Homo sapiens: one gene and its partners. The protein of the gene in region 3 purifies or fractionates together with the protein of the main gene of each other region. This does not show direct contact. Each region holds a gene or a part of one and is shown on either strand. Other genes may lie near its edges.

Region 1 (3,848 bases), on a different chromosome or scaffold from region 3:
GATTTACATTTTACCAAGCTCTTCAGGTGGTTTGGCAACAAAGCCAGCGTTGAAAACCATAGTCTAGATCAGGGTTGCAAACTCCTGTCTGTGGGCCAAATCCAGTCCACTGCACATTTCTGGAGTAAAGTTTTATTGGAACACAGTTACACTCAATTGGCTGTGTATTGTCTCTGGCAGCTTTTACTCCAGAGCTGAGTAATTGAGACAGAGACTATGTGGGCTACGAAACCTCAAATATCACTATGTGGCCCTTTGCAGAAGTTTGCTGACCCTGGTCTAGATCCGCGGAAAGGCCCATATCCACCTTGTTTTGAGAGGACTCAGGGCCGAGCTCAGGGTTTCCAGCCAGCTTTGTGCGGAGAGAAGGTGGAGCTGCCCCCTATTTCAATCCAGCCTCTCACCTGGGCAGCATGAGAGGCTTCTCCCGGGGGCTTCTGGCCCTGCTGCTGCCAGAAGCAACCCCCTTCTCCTCCATGGACACCCACTTTCCATGCTTAGGAAGAACCCTGCTTCCTCCGGGGAGTCATCTCTGGCCTCTCCAGCCCACAGTGTCTCTTGTGCTGCCATCCATGGATCTGAAGACAGACGGGCCCCTCTGTGTGCCAGGGCTGGAGGATGCTGGAGATACAAGTGTGCAGAATTGTGGATTAATGGCTCTCAGGGCTGCCATGGAGAAATGCATGAAGATGCAAGGGGAGGAAGGAGGATTCTTTCCTCTTGGAGGTGTTGGGGCCAGAAAGACTTCAGTAAGGGGGTGGCATGGCCTCAGGGAAGGGACTTCCAGGAGGAGGGGGAGGCATGCAGAAAGAGGGCCGAGGTTAGGGTCCCTGTCTGTCGTCCCACCCACGGTCCTCAGGGTGAGTCTCCATGGGCGCTGCCATCAGCCCTGGGCCAGTGCCTGGCTGGGGTCTTCCCATCATGTTGCTAGCAGCTCCTCTGGCTAAGGTCAAGGTACCCGAGGGCAGGAGCCTTATTTAGCCTGTCTCTGCCTCCTTTTAACTGTGCGACATCCTCTCTGGACCTCTGTTTTTCTTATCTATAAAATGGTACAATTCCTCTCTAAGGTTGTGTTTCTTCAGTTGCAGGATTCTATCAGCTTTTCTCCTAAGCTCCACATTTCAACTAAAGTGTTTTTGGCTGTTCTCTAGGAAAACCTGCCCCGTTCTCACGCTGGGCACCCGTTCACATGGTCCCCTTTGCAGGAGATGCCCTCCCCAGTTGGACTGCTGAGGGCTTTACCACTACCGTGGCCTCAGTTTCTCGCCTGCACGTTGAGGAGGCTGGCTGGCCCGCGTGAGTCCACAGGCCCTTCCCAGAAGCCCCCGCCTCTCTGTTCGGTCCCCTGCAGAGTCCCTGCGATGACGGAGGAGGTGGCCCGGGAAGCCCTCCTCAGCTTTGTGGACTCTAAGTGCTGCTACAGCAGCACGGTGGCTGGAGACCTCGTCATCCAGGAGCTGAAGCGGCAGACCCTCTGCAGGGTGAGAGGCCAGGGCCGGTGGGGGGCCTTGGCCGGGGGGCTGGGGAGCTGGGGGCTTTGGGACAGTGGAGGCCTGTTTGTGTGATGTGGCCAGGGGAAAGGAGTCCTGGGGGCAGTGTGTTTGAGTGTGAGCGGTGGTGATGTTGAATCCCATCTGCAACTTGACTTGTCTGTGGCTGTGAGTGATAATAAAAAGAACAAGTGTCAGGCCGGGTGCGGCGGCTCATGCCTGTAATCCCAGCACTTTGGGAGGCCGAGGTGGGTGGATCACCTGAGGTCAGGATCACCTGAGGTGAGTCAGGTTAGACCAGCCTGACTAACATGGTGAAACCCCATCTGTACTAAAAATACAAAAATTAGCCGGGCGTGGTGGTGGGTGCCTGTAGTTCCAGCTACTCGGGAGGCTGAGGCAGGACAATTGCTTGAAACTGGGAGGCGGAGGTTGTGGTGAGCTGAGATGGTGCCATTGCACTCCAGCCTGGGCAACAAGAACGAAACTCCAACTCAAAAAAAAAAAAAAAAAAGGCGTCATCAAACACCACTGACAGGCTTGAACATGCCAGGCATCATAGAACGCATGCTACACACACGCCTTGTCAAATCCTCATGGCTGCCCTATACGGTAGCATCACTGTCACTGGTTTACAGACGAGAAATTGGAAATTTAAAGAGGCAAAGTGATTTTCCCAAGAAGATGCAGCTAGAAGTGACAGAGGTGAGATTCAAACTCAGATTTGGTAGCCTCAAAGCCTATGTCCTCACTTCATACTTCCACAAGGCATGGGCTGAGAGAGGTTCATCTACCTGCCACTAGACTTCAGCTCCCTCTGCCTCCCCCAGATCATGACTGTGCCAAGAAATTCTTTATTCATTGCTGCAGGGAAGTCCTGCCTCTGACAGGCACTTCTGTCTCCTGTATTGACAGAGCAGAGGAGCAGCTTTTACAGTCACATTTTCTAGTGCTGCTCATCCAGCCACCCTCTGAGGAGCACATAATCACTTGCAGGCAGTGGTTAGAGCAGGAATCTGAAAGAAGAGGCCACTGTGTGGCTGTGTGACCTTGGGCAAGTCAGCTGACCTCTCTGAGCCTCCATTTCCTCACATGTAAAAGGAGAGGGCAAGTGATGTCCAAGACCTCTTCCCATTCTGTCACCCTATGGATGAAGATCAAGAAGGAAGATCTTGATATCAGGGAGATAAATTCCTCCATAAGGGAAATCTCAAAGCCATAGATTCCAGGGACCTCCATCTATCAAAGACAGCTACTGCTCTGAAGCTTGTCTCATAGAATCTTTGTATAAATTCATGGGGAACTGAATTAGCTCTAGTTTGAGCCTGTCAGGGGAGATTTCCTGGGGCTGGCTGACTTCCCTGCAGACATGGGGGCACGTGGAACAGAAATCGCTGTTGTCAGCCAGTTCCAGCAGCCGAGGGTGTTGTGCATGGACCTCTCAGTTTCCCCACTGAGCCCTGGGAGGGTAACAGCTTCATCTTTTTGCATAATGCTCTGTCTTCATAAGGGGCACGAGTGTGAACATGCTGTTTTTTTCCTTTTAGTACCGTCTGGAGACCTTTAGTGAATCCAGGATAAGCGAGTGGACATTTCAACCCTTTACTAGTAAGTGAATTGTCTGAAATTAGTTTAACTGGGGGCAAATAAGTCAGGGTGCTGGTGGAAAATATCAGGACTTGGCTCAGGCACTCATCTCAAATAAGATGGTCTTCTGCTTGGAGCCTTGGCTTCCTTACCCCCTGCAAAATGAGAGGATGGACTTTCATCTCAGAGACTTTCCAGTGCTTATCTTAGGAAATGCTTCCTGCCCAGGAAGCAGGAGGTCCTGAAAAAGCCAAGCATTTGCTTTTGCTACAGTCTGGTGCTGCCACACGGGGCCGGGCTGTAAAGCAGCATGCGTGTCTAAGCATTCACCTACACCCCCTCATGCCACCCCTAATTCCTCCTAAGCTTCTAGGCCCCTGTGCTCCCCATTCGCCTTGCCACCCCACCTTCTGCTGAGCCCCCACTGGAGGCCTAAGCTTCTCTCTTTGGGAAGATCTATGTCCTCCTTGTTTTCCCTAACAGACCGCTCAGGTCCATTCTTCAAGACTCAGCTCACGTGTCACTTCTTTTAAGAAGCTTTTCAGGATTTCTCCTCCTGCTGCTCCCCTCCCAGCAGGATGGGCCAGTCTTCTGAGTTTTCAGAGCCCTTTATGCAACTCTTGTCCAAAGCATGTATCATATCCTATCATATCTTATTGTGATGGTGTGCTGTCTGTCTCCTTGAACAGAGCAAGAGGAAGAAGATGGGATGGTGAAGGGGATGGTGATGATAATGGTGACAATTCTTGTGTGTCATCCCCTCAGTATGTG
Region 2 (3,848 bases), about 53 Mb from region 3:
CATCCCTTGCTATTACTTTAAAAGTTTTGCCCCCACATTGTGGTTTACCTGAATTCTTTATGCAAATTGCTACCAAGATGATATAACACAAATGTGCATTTATTTTTTATGGATTTGTCATCCAGCTAAGTTGAATGTCAGTTTCATACATGACTTCACATTGCAGATACCTAAGCCACTCTAGAGTGCTAATACTTCCTAAGCAAATGAGCAAGACCTCCCTTGAACATGGTTTTAACTTCTGGAAACACGATAGATGCATAGATACCAGTGGAAACATTCCCAGGCATAATTTTTCATTTCCTGTTCTCAACTTTTCACTCCACCCTTTCTCTCCCACTACAGAAAGCAAATTCATTTTTTTAAAAATCAGTAGAATACATTAAAAATGTGCTTAGAAGAGATAAACCCACTCCACATTAACTAATCCTTGACATTCATGACATATATGACACTTGAAATATCAAATTCTCAAGAAGTTATCACTCCCTAAAAATCTATTAAATACTGGATGGCTTCAGTGAAACACAAGTTGCTCTAAACATCAGCAACTAACAGAAACAAGTTTTTGGTGAATCAATAATATAGCAATGTGGTCATTCTGTGAACTGATTTTTGGCAAATTGTCCTACAGCCTAAGAATGTCCTGTACTTGTTATAAAGGAAAATCATAACATCAAAGGAAGTAAGTACAGACTTCTCAAGGAGCCAGGCAACTGGACCTGGGTAAACAAGAGTATCCAGAACAAGGGAAATCCAGGAAGACTTGGTATGAAGCTAGATAGAGCAGGCCTCTGTTGGACATGTCAGCATAAGATTGCTGGATTCTAGAACCCTTGTCTGAGATAACAATTTGCCGATACTATGACTTCACCATGAGGAATAGGAGAGCAACCAGGAGCTGCCTGTGGCCAGAGCCATGCTGCATTCATCTGGGTGCCCCCAGCATCTCTCACGGCATCTGGCACATGGTACTACATAAGCATGTGCTGAACTAGATGAAGAAAGAAGACAGTGGTGAAAAGATCTGAGCCACAGCAGAAGCCCCAAGTCGCCTAGAGGCAATCAAAGCGAGAGTGGGATGTCATGATGTGACAATGAGTTATGACCCATGAGCCCTCCTTCCTACAATGCTCAGTAATCTCAAAGCTGAAACAGCACTATGCCAGAGATGAAAAATCGACATTTCTGTCTGGATCCTAAGATCTGAAAGTGGAAAAGTAATACAAGGCAGTGAGGAGTCTAGAAAATAGGTCTCCTCAAAATGGGTAAAGGATCTGGAAATGTTGAATCTGGAGAAGAAAAATCTAAGGGAAGAAACAATTACTGTTGGTTTACTTGTTCACTCATTCTTTCATTTATGTCTCGTCTTTAAGTTTTGGCTCAAATGTCATTTCTATTTCTATCATAACCACCCTAGTTAAAACTGTATCCACTCCTAGAATTCCTAACATGCCACCTCCTGCTCCATTTTTATAGCATTTATCATCTTTAGTATACTACATCATTTTCTTACTGATATAGTCAAAAAGATTACATTTAGAGTCTGTTCCTCTCCCCGAAACTGAATGCAAGGGCAGGGGATTCTGTGTGTTTGAGTCACTGCTGTGCTCCAGCATCTAGAACAGTGCCTGGCTCTAGTAGTGGGCATCTGATGACTAAAGGAATGAATGAATCCAAACCTTTGGAACCTGAGGTACCCGGATAGGAGCCAAATGCTGAAAATCTGCAAGGTAAATAAGCAATGATCACTCTCCTGGGGAAAGTTAGGGCCTTGTGGGAGATGAAGACTTATAAAATTATCCATTATAGTAAGAACAGTTAAGTACTGTTATTCCCAAGCTGTGAACAAAGTCCTGTGATAACTCAGAGAGCTTAAACAACAAGCTCTGCCTAAAATACCTAAGGATTCAGTGTGGAAGTGACCCTTGATCAGCTCTTGAAGGACTTAGAGGTGGGGACTGGACAGCTAGAGCAATAAGGGAGGGCATTCCAAATGGAGAGAAGGGCCAGGCAAAGGTTCTTAGTCTTGACAGGGCCCAGTAGGTCTAGAGAACAGCAAGACTCTTAGAATGTCAGGACCTCTAGTGGAGTGAGGGGAAATCAGCAACTGTAAGAACAGGATGAAGACTGTCACCTGTCACCTACTTTCACTGCATGCCAAGCTCAAAGTCTGGATTTTACCCTACAGGCAATGGGGGAGCTATGGGCGGTGGGGGTGGGGAGTGGGAACAGGTGACATGAGTAGCTTGTTTTGCCAAGGAAGGTCATCCTAGCTGCAGCATGCAGAATGTACTAAAACAGGGAAGAGACTAGAGGCAGGAAGGTAAATTAAGAGGCTATTAGTGAACTAAGACAGCAGCCTGGGAATGGTGAGGCCTTCCAAGCAGAAGAAAGGCTCAGAGCTCGAACAAAAGGCAGCAGAAACCTCTGCAGACTTAAATGTCCCTGTCTGACAGCTTTGAAGAGAGTAGTGGTTCTCTCAGCACGGAGTTTCAGATCTAAGAACGGACAGCCTGCCTCCTCAAGTGGGTCCCTGACCCCTGAGTAGCCTAACTGGGAGGCACCCCCCAGTAGGGGCAGACTGATACCTCACATGGCCGGGTACCCCTCTGAGACGAAACTTCCAGAGGAACGATCAGGCAGCAACATTTGCTGTTCACCAATATTCCCCGTTCTGCAGCCTCCGCTGCTGATACCCAGGCAAACAAGGTCTGGAGTGGACCGCCAGCAAACTCCAACAGATCTGCAGCTGAGGGTCCTGACTGTTAAAAGGATAACTAACAAACAGAAAGGACATCCACACCAAAAACCCATCTGTACATCATCAGAGACCAAAGGTAGATAAAACCACAAAGATGGGGAAAAAACAGAGCAGAAAAACTGAAAATTCTAAAAATCAGAGTGCCTCTCCTCCTACAAAGGAATGCAGCTCCTCACCAGCAACGGAACAAAGCTGGATGGAGAATGACTTTGACGAGTTGAGAGAAGAAGGCTTCAGAAGATCAAACTTCTCTGAGCTAAAGGAGGAAGTTCGAACCCATCGCAAAGAAGTTAAAAACCTTGAAAAAAGATTAGACGAATGGCTAACTAGAATAACCAATGCAGAGAAGTACTTAAAGGACCTGATGGAGCTGAAAACCATGGCACGAGAACTACATGACGAATGCACAAGCTTCAGTAGCCGATTCGATCAACTGGAAGAAAGGGTATCAGTGATGGAAGATCAAATGAATGAAATGAAGTGAGAAGAGAAGTTTAGAGAAAAAAGAATAAAAAGAAACGAACAAAGCCTCCAAGAAATATGCGACTATGTGAAAAGACCAAATCTACATCTGATTGGTGTACCTGAAAGTGACGGGGAGAATGGAACCAAGTTGGAAAACACTCTGCAGGATATTATCCAGGAGAAGTTCCCCAACCTAGCAAGGCAGGCCAACATTCAAATTCAGGAAATACAGAGAATGCCATGAAGATACTCCTCAAAAACAGCAACTCCAAGACACATAATTGTCAGATTCACCAAAGTTGAAATGAAGGAAAAAATGTTAAAGGCAGCCAGAAAGAAAGGTCGGGTTACCCACAAAGGGAAGCCCGTCACACTAACAGCTGATCTCTCAGCAGAAACTCTACAAGCCAGAAGAGAGTGGGGGCCAATATTCAACATTCTTAAAGAAAAGAATTTTCAACCCAGAATTTCATATCCAGCCAAACTAAGCTTCATAAGTGAAGGAGAAATAAAATCCTTTACAGACAAGCAAATGCTGAGAGATTTTGTCACCACGAGGCCTGCCCTACAAGAGCTCCTGAAGGAAGCACTAAATATGGAAAGGAACAACCGGTACCAG
Region 3 (4,980 bases):
CCTGGCTTTGCTCTGTTCTGGGGCGTGGGCATGCTTTCCTCAGTCGAGCTGCTTGCACCCACACCTCGTCCCTTCTGCCACCTGGGAATTCTAAGAGCCTGGAGTAAGCATGCCAGGCCCTTTGTTTCTCCTCCCACCTGCACTCCACCCCTAGGACAAAGCCTGACATTTGGGGGTACACAGTAAACACAGGATTAAATATGTGCACAGCCATGGTTGCCTCAAGCCTCTAGTGACTCATATCATTAGTTTGGAGATGTAACGAAGGAAGATCAGCTCAAATATTCTCTTGGAGAACCCAGTATGCATTTTTACAGTTTCCCTCTCTTAGTCCTCACAGTGATACATTCTTTGTATTCAAACATTTGGGGAAACTGGCACTCAGAGAGGTTTTAAGTTGCCCAAGGTCCCAGAGCCTGTAATCAACAAGGTGGGGATTAAAATCCAGGTCTGACAAAGCCCTTGATCTCTCTGCTGCTCTGTAGATCAGCTGATGTAGCCTGGTGGCTCCTCGTAGCAACATGTGACCTTAGAAGGAGGCACATGTGAGACGAAGTCTTTAATTCAGGCATGCATTCATTCATTGAGTGCCAAGTGACAGGTATTTTATGGTGATGCCATACTCAGAGCTTGCAGTCTAGCTAGCAATACCAATTTCATTTTACTGAGAGCTTATGATGTGCCCAGCACTGCACTGAATGCTGAATTGAGTCACACACAACCCCCTAAGCAACGGGATGAAGCAGGAGCACGTTTCTCTCCGTGTAACCGGTAAAGATACTGATGCTAAGAGAAGCTAAGGAGCTGGCCCAAGAAACCCAGCCAGCACGTGGCAAGGCCCATGCAGAATCCAGCCCAAGCCCCTGGACCCAGCCACCACTCCGCTGCCTGCACTCAGGTGGGCCTGGCTTATGACAAATATCACCTTTCCCTGTTCCCGCATTAGGACCTCACTGAGACCTTGAAGTCTGAGCTCAGTGGCAAGTTTGAGAGGCTCATTGTGGCCCTTATGTATCCGCCATACAGATACGAAGCCAAGGAGCTGCATGACGCCATGAAGGTAACCAGGCAGACAGGGCAGGGGAGTGGCAGGGGTGCTCACATGACTGGGTAGGGGCAATGCGGGGACCGGGAACCTACAGCCCAGAGCTCCCCTTGAGCCACTGTTTGGAATGGCCATATGGGCCATAACTGGGCCCAGTGAGCAGGCAGCCTGCTGCTCAGACTGCACCCAACACCTGGAGTCACTGGTGCCTGATTGACACGTTGAGTGGCCGTGATGAAGCCAAAATCAGTACTTCTCAGAACCTCACGAGCTCAGGTGTACAGTGGTATTGGAAACCCACCTCTACAGTCCCAGGCACAGCCCCTTGGGTTTCCCTTTACCTCTCACTACTCTTTGCTTTTGCAGATTAATAAGGATGGGGACCCAGTAACTATAGTCATTTTGTTTGGAAAGACACTTGCTGCATGGGCACTGCCAGGCATTTTACACCCACGCTCCCTAATCTATCTTTGGCGCAGGGGAGGCTTCTTATTCCTGTTTATGGATCGGGATGCTTAGGCTCCAGGACATGGAGCAGCCTGTCTGAGACCACCCAGCTAAGGAGGGAGAGCTGAGACAGGGCTTCCCCGTCACAGCACTTGCCCTCAATGTTCATCACTGAAGACAAGCATGTGATTTTCTCATCACATCCTCCCACTTCAAGTGGGGCAGGGCAGTGAGGTCCTTCCTGAGGCTCAGGCATCTTGAGAAAAGAAGGTGTGGACAGAGCAGAAGGTCATGGCAGAGCACTCCAGCAGGCAGAGGTTTCTGTCCACAGGGCTTAGGAACCAAGGAGGGTGTCATCATTGAGATCCTGGCCTCTCGGACCAAGAACCAGCTGCGGGAGATAATGAAGGCGTATGAGGAAGGTAAGGGGTGGCACAGATGGAGGGGCTCAGGAGTGGCCACAAGCTTTGGCAGCCTGGCAGGGAACAAGGATCAAGAATTAACCTGGGCCACACTAGAAAGGACCCTTTGGGGACTTTTTTACCCACAGGTGCTGAGCACCTACCGTATGCCAAGATCTGTGCCTGATGGTGACACTGAACATGATTCAGACTTGATCTGTAAGCTCACCAGCTCCTCTTACAGGGGAGAGAGGCCTGTGACCAACTAAAATCTCTGCCCTTGAGGACTGTGGTAGTAGGGGGTGTGGACCCCAGGCTAGCAGAGGCCAGTCAGTCCTCCACATCATGTACCTAGTGGGGAGTTTTCCTGGAGGCTTTGGCTTTGCCAAGCCTTGAGATGAAATGGAGCTTGGTTGGCAGCCCCTAGCCTGGCTCTCTGACCTGGTCCATCTTGTGCTTTGAGCTTGGTTGGGTACGCATGTCGCTTCTAGTTGTGAAGCACCACCCAGGCGACAGCCACTTGGACACCCGGGCATTGCATCCATGCCCTGTGCCAAGGACTTTCTTTCCTAGAAGGCTTTAATAAGGAGAAGTATGGGGAACAGGGCTGGAAGGAGGAAAGCAGGCCCCGGGTAGGCTGTGGGCCTCTGCTTGTGCCTCATGGTCCTGTTTCCCTGCAGACTATGGGTCCAGCCTGGAGGAGGACATCCAAGCAGACACAAGTGGCTACCTGGAGAGGATCCTGGTGTGCCTCCTGCAGGTGTCACAGCCTAGGCTCTTGGGAGTGCCTTGGTTTGGGAGTCCCAACAGCTCCACCCCAGGGAGCAGCCCTTGAATAGCGCCACAAGAGTCAGGGTATGGGCATGGGATAGCCCAGCAGCCAGGGCTCATTGGGTGTGTCTCAGCATGGTTAGAGGGTCCCAACTGCAGAGCCCCCACACTTGTCCTTACTCAGCCATGTGAGAGCATCCTGGAAGCGGGAGGAGAGCAGGTCCTTCGTGCAGACCTCATGCCAGGCACTTTGCTTACCTTAGCTCACTGAATCCGCCAAGCCTTATGAGGCAGTCCTTACCACCCCCGTTGTACAAATGAGGAAACCAAGGGCTGAAGAGAATAACTGGCTTGTCGAAGTTTCCACAGCCAAAGAGCAGCAGAGCCATGCCTACCCTCCAAGCCCAGGATCCCCCCTGTGCCCTTAATGCTCTGGTCAGCTGGCCTGCCTTACAGAGCCACCTCCTCTGTTCCTAGGGCAGCAGGGATGATGTGAGCAGCTTTGTGGACCCGGCACTGGCCCTCCAAGACGCACAGGTGAGGCTGCGCCCAGCCGGCCATGTGGCCCCACCCCCTGCCATCTGGACTCCGGCTCCTCTGCCCACGGGGGCTTTCTCTGACACTGGGCTGGGACCCACCCAGCTCAGCTCCCTATAGGCCTTTGTCCTGTGGTGTCTGGGGAGGAGAGTGAGGGTGTTGGGAGACTCGGGAGGAAGGAGTGTGACTTGGGGGTGGGGGAGCACTAAAGCTCTGTCCTGGCAGGAACAGCCCATGAACCCGGGGGCGCTAGGCCCCAGTGCTGGACACAGGTGTCCGGGTCTCTGTAGGTCTGCCTGCTGGCAGAGGGAAGTCTGGGGACCAGGCAGTTCCTAGAGCAGCTTGTGGCCCAGGATAGAGAAAATATTCTAAGCCAGAGCTGCTAGAGAAAGGGGAGCTCCCTGTCAGAGACGACCAAGCAGGGGAGCATGCTGGCCTGGCAGAGTGGACAGGGCCAGGCCATGGCCACAGCTCTGGGACTCTGGGGCTCAGTCCCTCACCTCCCTGGTCTCCCTCACTGGCTTATTGTGGGTGTCCCAATGCTAGGATCTGTATGCGGCAGGCGAGAAGATTCGTGGGACTGATGAGATGAAATTCATCACCATCCTGTGCACGCGCAGTGCCACTCACCTGCTGAGAGGTACCAGGGAGGGAGGGGCTGGGGCCGGGGCCACAGGGGTGTCCTGGCCATGAGCCTCTCCCTCGTGCTTCTGCCTTGTCAAGTCTAGAGTTAGGGAGAGAGCCAGGGAGCCCAGGACTGTTTCCCCAGCCACCAGTGGGAGGTCAGGGCGGCAAATTGATGTGCGATCTCTGATCCGAGACACTGAGGGGCATCACGAGGAGGTCTGACCATCCCCTGAGCAGAGCCCTCTCCACAGTGTTTGAAGAGTATGAGAAAATTGCCAACAAGAGCATTGAGGACAGCATCAAGAGTGAGACCCATGGCTCACTGGAGGAGGCCATGCTCACTGTGGGTAAGAGCTCAGACTTGCACGTTTTTCAGGCCACAGGGCTCACCGTGGGGCAGCACCAAAGAACAAAGGGCCTAGGGATGCGACCACAAGAGAAAGAATCCCTGTGTCACCTTCACGGGATGTCCCCCCGACTCACACTCTGCCTGTCTCCCTCACCCAGGGACTGCTCCACCTCTAGAGTCCCAGTGTGTGCTGCCAAAGATTGTTCTCTGTGCTGCCCACGTGGTGCCCAGTGCTGTGTGGGTGTGTCTGCATGAGTGTGTGTGTGCGTGAGAGTGTGTGTGCCTGAGGGTGTGTGTGCATGACTGTGGGTGGAATGTGAGTGTGTGTGTGTGAGACAGACAGTGTGTGTGTGTGCGCACACAAATGCATACGCCAGTGATTATGCCAGCCCCAACCCTGTGTGTACTCATGGCAGCCATGCAGGGAGCACTCTGGCTGTGGTTGTGAAGCCCTGGCCAGCACAAAGTCATCTTTCTGGACATGAACCAGGGGCCTGGCCCCTGCCTTCATTGCCAGTTGAAGAAACAGTGATGTGTGGCTTGAGTCCAAACTGAGTGACGGATGGTCTGATGCTGAGAAACACTGGGGATCTTCCCCACAGCAGGAAGTCAGGGCCACTCAGGAGGACCCACTCCAGAGCTCTCATGGGTTCCAGGGCTGAGATCACAATGGGAAGAGTCACTGCAGAGTAAAGAGCTGAGGCCCAGGGCAGAGGGACGTCTCTTCTCCCACTTACACACAGAGCCCAGGTCCGGACTCCTGGCCTGCAGCTCTCACCTCCACACCAGGCTGCCTCCGTGCA

What was found. Proteins that work in one complex are often made in the same cells at the same time.
Region 1: the proteins of ANXA8L1 (region 3) and SSUH2 purify together in Homo sapiens (co-immunoprecipitation; one large-scale study listed by IntAct). This does not show direct contact.
Region 2: the proteins of ANXA8L1 (region 3) and GOT1 purify together in Homo sapiens (co-immunoprecipitation; one large-scale study listed by IntAct). This does not show direct contact.

The regions. Positions count from the first base shown.
Region 1 is NC_000003.12:8,631,299-8,635,146, reverse strand, and holds part of SSUH2 (protein SSUH2 homolog), read left to right. Parts: intron 1-501; coding exon of another isoform or gene 502-749; intron 750-1,151; coding exon of another isoform or gene 1,152-1,351; coding exon 1,352-1,481; intron 1,482-3,037; coding exon 3,038-3,098; intron 3,099-3,848. UniProt on the Homo sapiens protein: Plays a role in odontogenesis.
Region 2 is NC_000010.11:99,410,125-99,413,972, forward strand, and holds part of GOT1 (aspartate aminotransferase, cytoplasmic), read right to left. Parts: intron 1-3,848. UniProt on the Homo sapiens protein: Biosynthesis of L-glutamate from L-aspartate or L-cysteine. Important regulator of levels of glutamate, the major excitatory neurotransmitter of the vertebrate central nervous system. Acts as a scavenger of glutamate in brain neuroprotection.
Region 3 is NC_000010.11:46,381,633-46,386,612, forward strand, and holds part of ANXA8L1 (annexin A8-like protein 1), read left to right. Parts: intron 1-946; coding exon 947-1,060; intron 1,061-1,823; coding exon 1,824-1,914; intron 1,915-2,573; coding exon 2,574-2,653; intron 2,654-3,141; coding exon 3,142-3,201; intron 3,202-3,747; coding exon 3,748-3,841; intron 3,842-4,079; coding exon 4,080-4,175; intron 4,176-4,980.